Regions from separate parts of the Homo sapiens genome. Here region 2 is linked to region 1. Evidence: fine-mapped expression QTL. A gene starts in region 1. The other region holds a variant in brackets. All regions are shown on one strand. Distances are from middle to middle.

Region 1 (8,821 bases):
TCTCACCTCACGGCCTCTGCTAGGGAGGATGAATGCTTTGTCCTCCCAGAGCTTTGCGAGCTTGTAGCACACAGCCTCCCCAGCACAACATCTCTTGGAAACCTCAGACTTTGTCTTAAACATTCATGCAAATTTTGCATCTTATTTCCCATTATGTCAGCATGTTTTAGAAAAAACCCTCAACTTTCCTGAATATACAAGAGAATTTGACGTTGTAGAACATTGTGCCTTTTAAAAAAATTGTGTTATTTAAAAATTTTCCCCACCCCCCCTTCTGCCCCCCAAGACTGCCAAATCCTTTTTGAACAAATATTAGGAAATGCTTATTATGTGCCAGATATGATTCATGGTCTTGGGGATATAGCAGAAAACAAATACCTGGGTATGAAATAATCTGTACAACAAACCCCCATGATGTGAGTTTACCAATATAACAAATCTGCACCTGTGTCCCTGAACGTAAAAGTAAAAAAAAAAAAAAAAAAAGCAGTGGTTTGGGGTCTGGCCCACACTCTAATCCCCCGGAGACCTTTAAGCCACAATGTTGCCCAGGCCCCACTCCAGTGATTCTCATTTTACTGGTCGGTGGCAGCTTGGGTTTGGGAAATTCTAAATGCCATCCCCCCAGGTGATTTTACATGTAGCAGGGGTGAGAACAATTGATTCAGGGTAAAGAATGCATTCACTGTAGCTGGTTTCCATGCATACTGATGGGATTTGCCACATAGGAGCTTGAAAAATAGCTCTTCCTTATTAAAAATCAACGGACACCTCCAAGATGTACTTAGCTGTTCGGATAAATTGCTGCAGAAAAAAAGTCTTCTCAGCAGATGTATCTTTAAGTCACTTGATTTCAGAGTAAGAGGTTGTTTCAGTCACAGTACTTATAGTCAGTGTTGAAAATTATGAACAGCCTACAAATACCAAAAAGGAATGAAAGCATTTACAGACATATAGGATACATTCTGTTTTAAAATTGCTCCTCTGTTGTTGGGCTCTGATTTCCTAAAGTCATCTATCAGCCATTTCCCTCAAATTATTCCATGTCCTTCCAAGAAGCTTCTGCAATTTCTCGAGGTGATTGATTATTCCCAATGGTAAACAGCACCATATGGGTCCAAATCTAAAAGGAATTCTGCCTCTATTGCAGAAGAGTTACTCTCCAGAAACTTGCAGGCCTTGGAAAGCTGTATGAGCAGTGCAGTCTATGCAGGAGTAAGGGCTGCAGAGCCAGGCAGAGCTGATCCTGAGTACCAGCCCAGCTGCTTAGCAGCTGTGGGACTTTGGGCAAGGTTCTTGACTTGGAGCAGTAATATAAACCTCTTCTGCAAGAAAGGGTAGAATAATACTGATTGCAGAAACAGCAGCAATGCTTCATTACTCTCTGTATCTATGCTCTTTATTGTGTGCTCTTACAGCTCCTCCCATCAAGAGGCCGAATGTGTTTCCCAAACTTTGCATCTGGCTGGCACTATTTTCTCTGGCTATAGAAAACTGTTGTATTAGTTTGTTTTCACACTGCTGATAAAGACATTCCTGAACATGCGAACAAAAAGAGGTTTAATTGGACTTACAGTTCCACATGGCTGGGGAGGCCTCAGAATCATGACGGGAGGCAAAAGGCACTTCTTTCGTGGTGGCGGCAAGAGAAAAATGAGGAGAAAGCAAAAGTGGAAACCCCTGATAAACCCATCAGATCTCGTGAGACTTATTCACTAACATGAGAATAGCATGAGAAAGACCCGCCCACATGACTCAATTACCCCCTTCCCCGGTCCCTCCCACAACACACGGGAATTCTGGGAGATACAATTCAAGTTGAGATTTGGCTGGGGACACAGCCAGACCGTATCAACTGCGAATATGACAGCTTTTGTGCTAGTTTTGGGCCTAGGCTCAAAAGGTCTTAAATGCTTCTGTGTTTCTCAGAACCTTGCTATCTTTATGAGATCAAGCTATCAGAACCTTGCTATCTTTATGAGATTAGCCAGCTGGAGGATGACATACCATGGTGGGGAGAAGGAAGGTGCCACTGTTGATAGCCATCTCATCCCCAGAAGCAGAGCCACCTAGTCAACCAGCAGCTGGCCATACATACATGAAGCAGTCCAGTTGTGACAAGAATAGCTCAGTTGAGTTCAGCGTGAATGGCTGATGAACTCAATCATGAGCTATTAAGTTTTCGGTGATTTGTTATGCAATAGCTAACTAATACATGCACCCAGGGCAGATAGGGTGCCAGGATTCAATGAAAGGTTGATTCCTAGTTACCTGCAAGAAGAAAGCACTTTATAGGTACTAATTCTCCCCCCTTATTTAAAGTTGGATCTTTTGTAAGATAATGTTCCGTCATACAGAAATGCATGTACACATGTATATATGTGATTGGTGCTTTTACTCACACAGCCCCCCAACCACGGGAAGAAACAGACAATCACAGCTTGATCATTAGGGCTAAGGCCAAATAGCAAGATAAGTCTGCCTCTAGTCTATTTCCTCCATATCTAAATGTTGGAGGTCAAGGCTATGGACAGATCTGAAGATGTGTTCTCTCCTCTTAGGGCCCCATTATTGATGGGCAGCAGTCCTCTACCCGTGGATATTTTCTTTTGCTTTCCCCTATGCTCTCTAGGATCACCATCTCGTCCACCCTTCGACCGGAGGAGAGATGTTTGTAGCAAGAGGCTGTTCCCTCACCTCTGGCTGAAAAGGGACTTTCAGACCCTCCACTTCCTGACATAAGGGAGGTTAGACCTCAGAGCTGCACTTTAGTGTGGCAGCTATTGATCATGTGTGGCTATTGAATAACAGGAATACAGCTGGTCTGAACTGAAATGTGCTGAAAAGGTAAAATACAGAGTGAGCTTCAAAGATTTAGTACCCCAAAATATATACTTCCTTACCAATTGTATATTGACCATAGAGGAAAATGGTTACATACTGGGTTAAATTATTACAATCAACTTCACCTGTTTCTTAGTACATTTTAAAACGTGGCTACTAGAAAATTTAAGATTCACACATGGCTTACATTTTAATTCTTAGAGGCTTGAATCCTTTTTGAAATTTCAGGCTGTCTGTTCAAAGGACCAAAAGCCAGGAAGGCCATAAAATATAAAAATTCAAAATGATTGTCTTTATTTTCTTCTTTCCATTGGTGAATAACATATATTTATTATTTATAAATAAACATAACCGCAGTCACAAGATGAAATGTAAATATCCTCTAGGTGGGGCCGGACAGCGCAGGCAGGAAGCCCCGCTCCAAAAGATCGCGGCCAGCACCTGTCCTTGCTGTCTCATTCGGCCCATTGTCTGATTACAGCTCCTGTCACTCAGGGCCTGAGGGGGCGGGGCGTGATGCCCTATCCAATCAGAGGAGTAGGGGCGGGGACTGTCCAATCAGGCACATGTCTGGAGAGGAGAGGACGGCTTCCGGGATCTAGCGGGGCCTTTGTCCCGACAGAGCTCCACTTCCTGTCCCCGCGGCTCTGTGTCCCCTGCTAGCCGTAGGTCGTGTGACCCGCAGGCACCGGGAGATCCAGAAGTGAAACGCCAGGCTCTCTGGAGGCCAGGAGATGGTGAGTGTAGGGGCCAGGCCTCCTGAGAGACAGGGAGGGGCGGACTGGAACCCGCGGTACCGGCTCGGGAGGAACCGGGCTGCCCGGGTGGGTTCCGGGCTCCGCGGACCCGAGGCCCCTCCAGCTGCACCATGGCGGCCGGGCCCCGCGCGCCCCGGCGCATCCCTGCAGAGCGGCTTTGGCCCAAGCCCAGAGCCATGTCCCCCCGGCAGCTCTTCGCCCGCAGACCCTCGTCTCCCCGAGTCAGGAAGGGAGAATCCCGACTCCGTGGGTGGTTTGTGCATAAGAGGATGATCTGTAGCCCGTGGGGGCCCCAGTCCCTCCTTTCTCTCGAGGGAGTCCTTGCAAAAATGTGAAAGAGTTTTATTTGAGCAAAGAGCGATTCATGAATGGCAGAGGACCCAACCATGTTTTTTGGGTTTGGAGGTCCCACCAGCCGGCCTTGAAGGAAAGGCTTTTATCAGGTGCATGAGGAAGCAAACCACATTCATTCATTAGTTCGGTACAGTTACGTCATCTCCTGATTTCAGCTATCTAGGCTGAAATTTTCTGGTCCTGTAATCAGAAGTTAATTAGAGGTTTGTGGTTGACGAAGCCTGAATTTTGTTTCTGCAAGATAGTCATTTGCAAGAAACGCATCTGAGTTAGATTTTTTTTTTTAACCTAAGAACCCAGGGCACTAGAGCCACCTCAGTCGGATTGCCTGCTATTTAATTATTATTATTTTTGAGATGGAGTCTCGCTCTGTCCCCCAGGCTGGAGTGCAGTGGCGCGATCTCGGCTCACTGCAACCTCTGCCTCCCGGGTTCAATCAATTCTCCTGCCTCAGCCTCCCGAGTAGCTGAGATTACAGTCCTGCACCACCACGCCCGGCTAATTTTTGTATTTTTAGTAGAGACGGGGTTTCACCATGTTGGCCAGGCTGGTCTTGAACTCCTGACCTCATGTGATCCGCCTGCCTTGGCCTCCCAAAGTGCTGGGATTACAGTCGTGAGCCACTGCGCCCAGCCTGGACGGCACTTTTTAAGAGATTTGTTTTCTGTTTGTAATCATTCCACGTGACAGGAAAGCAGAGAATCATCCCCTGACGCTATTGTAAAAAGTCTTTGTGCCTCTCCTCCTTTTTATTTTCCCTAGGCACAGACACCTTACCAGAATGTCTTTGGTTTGAGGTTCCACTTTGGAAACTTGACAGGGTGATTTGCTCTCAGCCACCCTCTGGACTTTTTCCTCAGTTTCAGTATTGTCCAGGGATAACACAGGATGCCCACCATGGCCATGTCTGCTGGAGCATCTAGTGAATTTCAGGCCCTGGGTTATTTCTCAGAGGACAGCCTGAGGTATGAAGTGTGGCCTCTCCAGGGAGCAGCTGGATGCCCTGGGCTGAGAGAAATCTCCTGGTCTACTCTTCCTCTAAAGAGGTAACCACTTAGGACATTAAGATTGTCTTCACCCAACCCAACTTTCAATCCCTGGAGACACATGGCTGATCAGCCAATCACATGCCCCTGTCAGAGGGAAAAGACCGAAATCATTTCTGCCCTTTGGACTCTCAGATTTGTGAAGGGAGACAGAATGTTTCAAAGAGCAAGAAAAACTCCACCCCGTGAGATGGTGCAAAACCTGTAAAGCAAAATTCACCTGGGACACTCAGCGGGGCACAGTGCAGTGTATCATCGGGGGTGGCCGGTGAGCACTTCGGTGAACAGGATGGAGGTGGGAGAATCTCCCAAGGAATAGAATAGCCTGACTTGACACAAGTCATTAGCTGTGTCTGTGTTCCAGTCGGCACTGCCACTCTCTGTGTCTCCTTGAAATAATTTATTCACTTACTGCAATGTTGGATTTTTAATTGTAAATTTACATTTTATCAGTAGAGCTTGAAAGGTAAGAAAATACTTACAAAGGACATGAAATAGGTCAATTTCAGGAAAAAAGTTAAATATCTAGTCATACATACCTTTTTCTTCTCCAGAGTGATTAAGGGTAGAAAGTTACTTAGGTCTGTTCTTTTGTGGAAGATGATTTCCAACAGAATCCCAGGGCTTAGCTTTGGGAATGCTACCAGGGAACATAAAATGCTTCTTGGATGGCTGTGGAGAATGTTTACATTTTCTACAAAAAAATTATGGTAGATTACTTGGTAAATTGCATAGATTCATCAGAACATGAGCTCTTTTTGCAGGATGAATTTGTTGTCATGAGTATCTCTGTTTTATATCCTGTTCTCTAGATGTCTGAGCTTAATGCTAAGTTGTAGGAGATGGAACTTAGCACTTCTAAAAGTGTTCACATGTGATTGTTTACTATATGATTTGTTATGGAAATAGTTAAATGACAAGTTCATTGTCTGAAAGCAATAAATAATTTTGCTTTTTCTGTGGAGGTGAAAGTGTAAGTGCTTACAGTTTCCTTTTCTTCTGTAAACTGTTTCAGTGATTTTGTTGGATGTTTCCAACACTGGGTATTTTCTTATTTAAACCTAAGTGGATAACCCTGATTGGGAAGTTGAAGCCCAAGAACAGTCATTCCAAGCTAAGGCTAATACTGAGTCTGCAAAAGAAAGCAATCGAAGGCCTGGCTCAAGCTTGTCCAACCCACAGGCCTGGGCCACATGCTGGCCTGGGCTTTGAATGTGGTCCAACACAAATTCGTAAACTTTATTAAAACATTATGAGACTTTTTTGTGATTTTTTTTTTTTTTCAGTTATCAGCTATCGTTAGTGTTAGTGTATTTTATGTGTGGCCCAGGGAAGCCAAGATCGGACACCCCTGGCCTAGCTAGTGCTTCCCAAGGAGCCTCCCCTGCGGGTGCGCCAGACTGCTCACAGCAACCATGGAAGGAGCCTTTCTACAGAGAGAAGCTGCAGAGCCCGGGAGCACTGGGGACCCACAGGCAGATGCAGTTAGAGTTGGGATGGAAGGAAGCTGGGGAGGACTTCCTGGGTATGGAATCGTTATTATCCTGGGGCTGTTTCTAGACTTCGTCAAATAAAATAAATTTAGCTTTAGATAGGAAGTTATTGAACTCTAAAGGAGGATTGCAACAGGGAGAAGGTAGCAACTATCATGGATCTCATGGCCATAGAGGGCATCTGTGCAGGGTCACCAGGAACTCTCTCACCAGCACCTGGAGTCTTTTGGACATTCAGGAGTGCACTGTGCAGACGGGGCTCAGGCTGACAAAACGGTCTATCTGTGCTTCTGTTGTAGAATAAGAGAAATGAGTCACCCAGGGTTTGTTCCTCCCCTCAGAGAAGAAACCTCATTGGTATCCACATGGGAATTACTCCAGTTTTTCTGGTACTTCAGTAAAAAACAAAAATGAGATCTGGAGATTCAAACTGATAAACTAATTGATTCCATCCTGTGTAGCCATTAGGAAAACAGAGAAGGCAGCCATGGTCCCCGCAAGCCAGAAACTTTTCCATTTCCAGTAACTGGATAAATCATTGAATTCAGCGTCTTGGGGTCAGCATGAAGAAGGGAGTGGTCAAAGGGACTTCTGCTTCATTTGGGCCATTTTCCTGATGTGGTTGTTGTGAGTTCTGATGTCATATTGAAGGGATATTCAGACAGACAAGGTGGTGGTGGTATTATTTCTGTTGCTTTTGCCCGGCTAAAAATAAATATTTAGCTTCTACCATATCTGTCCTAGAAAATCCTAAAGGTTTCGGTTAAATTGCTTGTTATTTTATGTTATAAAATAGACAAGGAAGTGGCCAAAATAGATTAAAATTATACAAACCCTGGGATTTAAATTTTGGGGTGGGGGGCAGTTTTAGGAAAAACAGAATTGTAAATACTCTAGTAGCATAGAGAGCAGAATCCTGCGTAGGGCCCTCTCCCTGCCCAGACATGCCCAGACTCTCCTTCTCTGAGTCTCATCCAGGTCTGGCTTCACCCTGGACTCTCCTCCGACAGAGTTAACTACAGAATTAAATCAGAGTTTTGGGTTTAGCTACAGAGTTAAATCAGTTTGGAGTTTAACTACAGAGTTAAATCAGAGTTTGACTCCTGCTGCCTCTCCGGAACTGATACACAGAATTTTCGGAAACCCCAAAGCAGATAAATGGGATCAAAGGACTCTCTATTTTGGAGCCTTAATTTTTCTTTTTTACTAACACCAGCGCTGTTAGAGACATCGTATCCAGCAAGCTCTTTCTCAGTCCTGTGGGTCTAATAGTTGCTTCACAAGCCACAAGAAAGTGAAGATAAACACAACAATGGAAAGTGCCTTTGCACTACACTTCATCCCCTCTGTATCCCTTCCATTGGTCTATCTGGAGCTTTTATCACTACACTTTTAAAACGTTAATGATAGGAAAATAGAAGAGGAACCACAAAGCCTGGTCCCTTCATCTATATCTTGAGAGTTGCAGGACACTTGGTTCCATCACCCAGGGTGTGGTGAGGATTAACTCACATGACGTGAGGTGCCCAGCACAGTGCTGTCACATACATCCGAGCACCCCGTGCCTGCTTAATAAACACTGCATTCATACGTGTGTACACATTGTTTTCCAAATGCAGACAGACTCAGACATTGCTTCCTTCTCCAGCCCTGGAAAACTTTAAAGAGCCAGGAAATAATGTAATCTTTCAGAATAGAGATTGGCTGTCTCCATTTGCACCAGAAGAACTTATGTTGTGGTCAGAGGGTTGGGTGTAAGGGACTGTGCTGGGGCTGCTTTCTTTAGCTGAGTGTTAATGATCACAAGTCTTGGGGGAGCAGCATCACCATTAATGGCAGAACTGTTAAAAAATCCAACCCATGAACCCCTTTGAAATCTTCAGAATCACATGACTTAGAGTGGGGCCAAAATTACCAAAAGATTCATATGCACATTGAAGCTTGAGAAGCAAGGCTTAGCTAAATGGTTCTCAGCCTGGCTTCTAATTAAATCACATGGACAACTCAAAAAAAGGCCCTCACCTTTGCCCTCACAGATTCTGCCTATTGGTTTGGGTGGAAGCACCAGTGCTGTTTAAGTCACATGCATCATGGGATTCTAAGGTGTGGCCAGAATCAGTGATGGGGGGTTTCAGATGCATTTGTACGAGTTGAGCTCAGCCTTGGTTCCAAAGGGAGGTCACAGGGCCTTCTTTGCCTAGGTTTCAGAGGCCAGCTCAGTGCAGCTTATACTCCAATTGCTGAAGCAGAATTGCTGTTGTTTAGCAGGAGAGGGAACCTGAGAGCAGGAAGAGAGAAAGTCACATTTTGATCTCCATGTAGAAGT
Region 2 (8,821 bases), 35 kb before region 1:
CTGTCCTGCCCGCCGAAGGGTTTGGAGTTTCCTGCTCTTGTCTGTCTCTGGGTTGCCCCATGGGCCCCTGTTGGAAGGTTTAGCTCTTGCCATACCTTTGGAACTAGTTCCTCTGGTGAATTCTCTGCATTGATCCTGCTGGAATGAGCTCTTTCCTGACTGATGCAGGATGGATTTTATTTTTTACTTATTTTTTTGAGACAGAGTCTCACTGTGTTGCCCAGGCTGGATTACCGTGGCACAGTCTCGGCTCCCTGAAACCTCTGCCTCCTGGGTTCAAGCAACTCTCGTGCCTAGCCTCCTAAGAAGCTGGGACTACAGGCACATGCCACCATGCCTGGCTAATTTTTGTATTTTTGGTAGAGACAGAGTTTCACCATGTTGGCCAGGCTGATCTCGAACTCCTGACCTCAGGTGATCCACCTGCCTCGGCCTCCCAATGTGCTGGGATTACAGGCATGAGCCACCGCACCTGGCCTAGGATGGATTTTAAAGATGGGCCCGAAAGTGCAGGGTTTGACATAAGGATGTCGAGAGGCCATTCCTCAGTAGGCAGTAGCAGACCTATCTTAGTGAAAGGGCCACACTTTTAGCAAGTAAACAATCCCCTGCTTCTCCAATACCTGCTTTCTCCCTAATCCTCCCCAAAAGGGTGCATCTGTGGTCACCAGCAGGTCTGCCCTGTGCCACCAGGAGAGGGCAGCAGTCACCCAGTGTATATTGTTGCTGCCCTGTGAATCTTAAGATGGGGCCAGCCATGGAGAAGCAGCCTGCTGACAGCCACAGCCTGCAGCATGGGCCGCCCTCACAGTTCTGCCTGGGCTCACTTAAAAGCACCTTTTGTTTTCCTCCTCTCTGTCATGGTCATGTGGCAGCTCTCACGGAATCCTTGTCTCCTGCCCTAGACTACACCTAACCCTACCCTCTCAACACCTCTCGTTGAAGGCCCTCCCATCCAGGTTTCCCTACCAAGTGAATTTTTTTTTTAGAGACAAGGTCTCTTGCCCAGGCTGTCCTCGAACTCCTGGGCTCAAGCAGTCCTCCCATGTCAGCCTCTAGAGTAGCTGGGACTATTCGGCACACACCACCATGCCCAATGAAGTGAATATTTTACATGCCAGCTGGCTGGTATTACACCATTCCATCCCAAATCTCCCCTCCAAACTTGGTGAAAATCATCTGACCATTTTTACAGATTAGAACGAAAGCAAACAAGCTCTCACTCTGTCTGACCCCAGCACGAGGCTGTCCACACAGAGCTTTTGGACAAGCTGTACGAGGACCTGGCAGAGACCCTGATGGCCAAGGAGTCCACCCAGGGCCACCCGAGCTATTTGCTGGTATGAGAAGGGCACCCTCCTCCCCCTCACAGCCCAGATACCCTTCCTGCACAAAGTGAAAACGTGGGTGTGGGTTCAAATCCTGACTCACCCATTCTGCAGTCTTAGACATGAGGTCCGTCAACCTTCTTTAGCCTCAGTTTCCCTGTCTGTAAATCAAGCACTTCAACAACAACAGCATGTCTCATGGGGTTGTTGGGCATTTGTCCAATAGGTGACACACTCTACCTGCTTCACAAGGACCTGGTGTCCAGTCCTCAAAGAATACTTGACAGGTCCTGGTGTGGTGGTTCACACCTGTAATCCCAGCACTTTGGGAGGCTGAGGTGGGTGGATCCGAGGTCAGGAGTTCAAGAGCAGCCTGGCCAATATGGTGAAACCCTGTCTCTACTAAAAATACAAAAATCAGGCCGGGCGTGGTGGCTCATGCCTGTAATCCCAGCACTTTGGGAGGCTGAGGCAGGTGGATGACCTGAGGTCAGGAGTTTGAGACCAGCCTGGCCAACATGGTGAAACTCTGTCTTTACTAAAAATACAAAAATTAGCGGGTGTGGTAGTAGGTGCCTCTAATCCCAGCTACTCGGGAGGCTGAGGCAGGAGAATCTCTTGAACCCAGGAGGTGGAGGTTGTAGTGAGCCAAGATCACGCCATTGCACTCCTGCCTGGGCAACGAGAGGGAAACTCTGTCTCAAAAAAAAGTGGAAAAATTAGCCACACATGGTGGCACATGCCTGTAGTTGCACCTACTTGGGCAGCTGAGGCAGGAGAATTGCTTGAACCCAGGAGGCAGAGGTTGCAGTGAGCCAAGATTGTGCCACTGACTCCAGCCTGGGTGACAGAGCTCAAAAGAAAATAAGATAAAACATAGATACAGAAAACCACAAAGGAAAAACATAGCATATTGAATCATCACAAGGCAGCCACCCCTTCATAGCCACACCTGGCCCCTGGCCACCACTGACCTGTGCTCCATCACCAGAATTCCGTTGTCTCAGGAATGTTCGATGAATGGAATCCTGTGTGGCCTGAGATGAGTGTCTTTCATGCCACGTGACACCCTTGAGGCCCGTGCAAGCTGTTGGCATGTCAACAGTTAGCTGCTTCTCATTGCTGAGTGGCGATTGGTCCTGTCATGGTTTATTCAGCCATGTGGTGGATGGCTACTTGTCTTCTAAGCCACTTGCCTTCTGATTGCTGGACTGACTCTCTCGCCCTCTCTTGGTGCAGCCCTCGGGAGGCTCAGTCACACTCTCCGAGAGCACAGCCATCATCTCCCATGGCATCACAGGCCTGGTCACATGAGATGCTGCCCTCTACCTGGCAGAATGGGCCATCGAGAACCCGGCAGCCTTCTCTCATAGGTGACCTCGGGGCGCACGGCAGGACACCGAGGCAGGCTCACCCTGGTGCAGTTACAGACATGGTCCCCTTTCCTCCCGCCAGGACTGTCCTAGAGCTTGGCAGTGGCGCCAGCCTCACAGGCCTGGCCATCTGCAAGATGTGCCGCCTCCAGGCATACATCTTCAGCGACTGTCACAGCCAGGTCCTCGAGAAGCTCCGAGGGAATGTCCTTCTCAATGGCCTCTCATTAGAGGCAGACATCTCTGCCAACTTAGACAGCCCCAGGGTGACAGTGGCCCAGCTGGACTGGGACGTCGCGACGGTCCATCAGCTCTCTGCCATCCAGCCAGATGTTGTCATTGCAGCAGGCAATGCCCAGCCCCGGGCACTCTGTGCAGGCGGTGTCCTTGCAGCTCTACCCAGCTCTGGGCTCTGGGAAAAGGGAACAATGGACGCTGTCGGGCATGGACATGATGGGGCTTCCAGAAGAGTTACTCTGGGCCTCCAGGGTGACATCAAAGGACAGGGGTGCCTCTTAAGGTGACCTTCCAGCCACAGCCCTCTTGTTGGAGACAGGCATACTCCCATTACAGTCATCACCACATGGCTCTGTCCCAGAGCCATGCCTCTGTCTTTCAGAGACCACAGGAGGAAAACAACCACTTCTGGGATGAGGACAGGGCCCTTGAGAGAAGGTGGTGTTTGGCTGGGCCACCGAAAACCCCTCGCCCCTGCCAGCACACTCGGTCTCCTCTCTGGTTGAACAGAGCTCTGCCTGTGGTCCTGGGTCCCAGCCCTGAAACCCACAGGTCCAGCGGTGGCCAGGGACACAGGCCCACCCCTGCAAGCCAGCAGACAAATCGGCAGACACCTGAAACACGAAGTTCATGGCAGGGTCAGGCTTTGTGTCATTCACAGCCCTCTAGATAGGCCGAGAACCAGAGCTCATTTTTTAAGGAACACCAGTGAGTCTGGAGATTTTTTTCTTTTGCTTCGGTCTTTTGCAGCTTTCTCTACTAAGGGTTCTCCTTTTTCACCCAAGCAATTGCCTTTCCATCTAATGGCCCAAATGGTCAAATGGCATCTACTAGTCTCATATGACTGCTGCCTCTCTGGCCTCGCCCTGCTGCTGAGGTCAGCATGACCTGGAACTGTCCGCTGGTCCCTTTCAGTAACCTGAAGCTTTCACCGTAGACGTGCTGTATTGCCCAGAATCCATCGTGTCGCTGGTCGCGGTCCTGCGGAGGCTGGCTGCCTACCGGGAGCACCAGCGGGCTCCTCAAGTCTACGTGGCCCTTATCGTCCGCAACCCAGAGACGTGCCAGCTGTTCACCACCGAGCTATGTGAGCCCACACGCCCACCCGGGCCTGCATGGTCCCCGAGCTGTCCCTGCGGGACTCCAGTGGAAGTGAAAGAACTGGGGGCCGAGGAAAAGCTAGGA[T/A]GCCCCACACTCCCACACCATGCGGGGAACTAGGGCAGAGGCCGGTGAGCAGGGTGGGCCTGGGGCGTGGGAGCTTGCGGCAGGAGGAGGGCAGCTCAGCACAGGGAGGGAGGATCTGAGCCCAGCAGCCCTACTGTGTGCTTCAGAGCAGGGTTCCCTAAGCCCTTGGGCGTCGGTTTCCTCATCTATAAAATGGAGGTGGTGGGAGGGGCAGTCGGGGTCAGGGCTGGACACAGCTGTGGCCTGCAGGACGCTGGAGCACAGGCTGTACAGGCGGATCCACCACGCCACTGTCCTGAGCACCCAGTTGATGGAAGACGAGCAGGGTGACTATAGAGAAGGGGAATTGTCCCCGTAGTGGGCCAGCCACTGTCCTCAGACCTGACATTTGTCAGCCCCCAGCACCTGTGAGAGTGTGCTATCATTGTCCCATCTCACCGACAAAGACACTAGGACACACAGAGGCCAAGCAACCCCTGAGCTCCCACAGACTGCAGCTCGGCCACCTGGCTCTCGTGCCTCCACACTACACCCAAGCCCCCCATTGCCACCAGCCTTTGCCCCAGATCACCCTGAGCACAGCCCCTCCTGGCAGCCATGTGCACAGATGCACGCGCAGCAGCCTCTGCCTGCACACAGAGACGTGGGTCCAATGCCTGTCCACGTGGGGCAGCGCGTTAACTACAGAGCCAACAAACAAGCCAGCACACGAAGGCATACTGGGTTCCACGACAAAGTCCTGCACAACCTCGCACAGGAGGCTGGCCGGGCGCGGGGCTCAGGCCTGTCAACCCAGCACTTTAGGAGGCTAAGGCAGGGGGACTTCTTGACACCACGATTTCAAGACCAACCTGGGCAACATAGTGGGACCCCATCTCCACAAAACATTCAGAAACTAGCCGGGCATGGTTGCGCACACCTGTAGTCCCAGCTACTCGGGAGGCTGAGGTGGGAGGATAGCTTGAGCCCAGGAGGTGGAGGCTGCAGTGAGCCCTGATCTCACCACTGCACTCTAGCCTGGGCAACAGAGCAAGACCCTGTCTCAAAAAGGCAAAAAAAAAAAAAAAAAAAGGAAGTCTTTCTTCAGATACTTATGTGAAAAAATAACTGCAATATCTTTGAAGTGAAAAAAACAGTGCCAAGCAGAACACATAGTATAAGCCCCCACCCACCTTTTTTTTTTTTTTTTTTTTTTTTTTTTTTGGAGACAGTCTGGCTTTGTATTGCCCAGGCTGGAGTGCAGTGGTGCCACGGCCCACTGCAACCTCCCACCTCCCAGGTTCAAGCTATCCTCCCATCTCAGCCTCCTGAGTAGCTGGGACTACAGGTGCGTGCTACCACACCTGGCTAATGTTTGTATTTTTTGTAGAGTCGAGGTGTCGCCATGTTGGCCAGGCTGGTCTTGAACTCCTGACCTCAAGCGATCTGCTGCCTCAGCCTCCCAAAGTGTTAGGATTACAGGCGTGAGCTACTGCGCCCAGCCCCATTTTTGTTTAAAAAATAATAATAATCACCCACACATGTTTATGAGTACCTATATTCCCAACTACTCAGGAGGCTGAGGCAGGAGGATGGCTTAAGCCCAGGAGTTTGTGGCCCCCTTGAGCAACATAGCAAGACTTCATCTCAAAAAAAAAGTATCACAATAATCATTTTCACATAAGTATACCTATTGGGGAAAACCTAGAATATATATGTAGCAGGCTCGTCCAATCTGTGGCCCAACACAAATCTGTAAACTTTCTTAAAACAGTACGAGGTTTTTTTGTGATTTTTTTTTCTTTTAGCTCATCAGCTATTGCGAGCATTAGTGTATTTTATGTGTGGCCCAAGGCGATTCTTCTTCTTCCAATGTGGTGCAGGGAGGCCAAAAGATTGGACATCCCTGATATACACATTAACAGGTGCCATCCTTGGATGGCAGGATTATAGAGACTTCTACACGTTCATGTCTGTACTACTTTATTTTTATAAATACACATTTTCCACTCGTAACAAAAAACTGTGATTGAAAATCATCCCGTGTCACAGTGTCTCACGCCTGTAATCCCAACACTGTAAGAGGCAGAGGATTTGGGAGGCTGAGGTGAGCGGATCACTTGAGGTCAAGAGTTCAAGACCAGCCTGGCCAACACGGTGAAACCCCATCTCTACTAAAAACACAAAAATTAGCCACGCGTGGCGGTGCACGCCTATAATCCCAGCTACTCGGGAGACTGAGGCAGGAGAATCACTTGAACCTGGGATGCATTGCAGTGAGCTGAGATTGCACCACTGCACTCCAGCCTTGGGAACAGAGTAAAACTCTGTCTAAAAAAAAAATAATAAAAGAGTCTGAGGCAGGAGCATCACTTGAGGCCATGCATTCAGGACCCCATCTCTACAAAATAAAAAAATTACTAGCATGGTGGCATGCACCTGTCATCCCAGCTACTCAGGAAGTGGGAGGATTGCTAGAGCCCAGGAGTCGAGGCTGTAGTGAGCAATGACTGTGCCACTGCACTCCAGCCTGAGTGACAGAACAAGATCGTATCTCAAAAAAAAAAAAAAAAAGAAAAGAATCATTCTGGCTAACGGCTCTTCAGACATCTGTGCTTATGAGAACACCAGCCCCTTCTAAGCTGTGTGTGTGTGTGTGTGTGTGTGTGTGTGTGTGTGTGTGTGATTTTGTTTTTTTTTTTTGAGATGGAGTCTCACTCTGTCACTCAGGCTCGAGTGCAGTGGCGCAATCTCTGCTCACTGCAACCTCTGCCTCCTGGGTTCAAGCAATTCTCCTGCCTCAGCCTCCCAAGTAGCTGGGATTACAGGCACCCGCCATTGTGCCTGCCTAATTTTTGTATTTTTGTAGAGATGGGGTTTCACCATGTTGGCCAGGCTGGTCTCGAACTCCTGATCTCAAGTGATCCACCCGCCTTGGCCGGCCTCCCAAAGTGTTGGGATTACAGGCGTGAACCACTGTGCCTGGCCGCTTTCTAAGCTTTGTGAAGAGTGAGTTGACTGAGCAGCCAGGTAAGTGTGGGTTCAGATCTCTGCGTCTGTCCCGCTGTGCCAAGTGCTGGGCAGACGCGGGCAGAGACTGGACAGCGGCACGGTGCCTGCTGCTAGCCATTTCTATGCAAAACCAGATTTCTGGTCCCATCCTGGAGGCCAATTCTAGGCACCTGGGTGGGCCTGAGAACCTGTGAACCAAGTAAACTGACTTGTACACGCCCCCACCCCGCCAGGCCTGTCCTAGCAGCCCCACACAATACGCTCATGTCCTGTCCCCAAACACTGCCATCTTCAAACACATGTCCTCTGTTTCCAGGCCGGGCCGGGATCAGATGGGAAGTGGAACCTCGTCATGACCAGAAACTGTTTCCCTACGAAGAGCACTTGGAGATGGCAATGCTGAACCTCACACTGTAGGACTCACACACGACTCCAACGGGATTGTGAGAATCAAGTCACTCTCGTGGGAAGAGTTTTTATATGGGAAAGCGGATAAAACTTTCATTGGACTGGAATGTTTGGAGAATGTTAATTTCCAAATCAGGAACCACAAACTGCCCTCTGATAAGACATCGGCTATCTAAGCTTGTGGGTGCTCCCTTTCTGCCAGCAGTTCTGGTTCTTAAGAAAATCGCCATCAATCAGACATGAAAACTCTGGCTCCAAAAATAGCATTTTCTTTGTGCAAATAAAAACGTGTGTATCAAGTATGATGTTCCCCCCAACGTGGACACACTCGGTTCCTCACAAAGCCAAGCCCGCTGCAGCTGCCACATCTGTGGACACACTCGGTTCCTCACAAAGCCAAGCCCGCTGCAGCTGCCACATCGGTGGACACACTCGGTTCCTCACAAAGCCAAGCCCGCTGCAGCTGCCACATCCCTGGACACACTCGGTTCCTCACAAAGCCAAGCCCACTGCAGCTGCCACATCCCTGGACACACTCGGTTCCTCACAAAGCCAAGCCCGCTGCAGCTGCCACATCGGTGGACACACTCGGTTCTTCACAAAGCCAAGCCCGCTGCAGCTGCCACATCGGTGGACACACTCGATTCCTCACAAAGCCAAGCCCACTGCAGCTGCCACATCCCTGGACACACTCGGTTCTTCACAAAGCCAAGCCCGCTGCAGCTGCCACATCCCTGGACACACTCGGTTCTTCACAAAGCCAAGCCCGCTGCAGCTGCCACATCCCTGGACACACTCGGTTCCTCACAAAGCCAAGCCCGCTGCAGCTGCCACATCCCTGGACACACTCGGTTCCTCACAAAGCCAAGCCCGCTGCAGCTGCCACATCGGTGGACACACTCGGTTCTTCACAAAGCCAAGCCCGCTGCAGCTGTCACATCGGTGGACACACTCGGTTCTTCACAAAGCCAAGCCCGCTGCAGCTGCCACATCGGTGGACACACTCGATTCCTCACAAAGCCAAGCCCACTGCAGCTGCCACATCCCTGGACACACTCGGTTCTTCACAAAGCCAAGCCCGCTGCAGCTGCCACATCCCTGGACACACTCGGTTCTTCACAAAGCCAAGCCCGCTGCAGCTGCCACATCCCTGGGCTTATGGTGCAGCAGGTGCTTTTTTCAAGACAGGAATCAAAATGTTAGGAACACGGCAGAAAGGTGACACCTGGAGACCAAACGCAGGATGAGGAGTACTGCAGAGGTCACAGGGAAGTCACAGAACAGTAATACGCTAGCAGG

The links. PIP is the estimated chance that this variant, and not a neighbour inherited with it, causes the effect.
Region 2: its variant is fine-mapped to the expression of ZNF195 in pancreas (GTEx, PIP 0.97).

What each region holds. Positions count from the first base shown.
Region 1 is chr11:3,373,798-3,382,618 of GRCh38, reverse strand. ZNF195 (zinc finger protein 195) reads left to right here and starts at 3,473. Exons shown (of 6, transcript NM_001130520.3): 1 at 3,473-3,581. The coding sequence starts at 3,579. It also overlaps the pseudogene TSSC2. RefSeq lists enhancers at 3,226-3,520, 3,209-3,772 and a silencer at 3,698-3,767.
Region 2 is chr11:3,409,059-3,417,879 of GRCh38, reverse strand. It overlaps the pseudogene TSSC2 and the pseudogene FAM86GP. Among named protein-coding and RNA genes, the nearest start is that of ZNF195, 34 kb to the right of the region's middle. RefSeq lists enhancers at 7,593-8,093, 8,094-8,594. The variant T/A (reference allele first, on the strand shown) is at 4,124.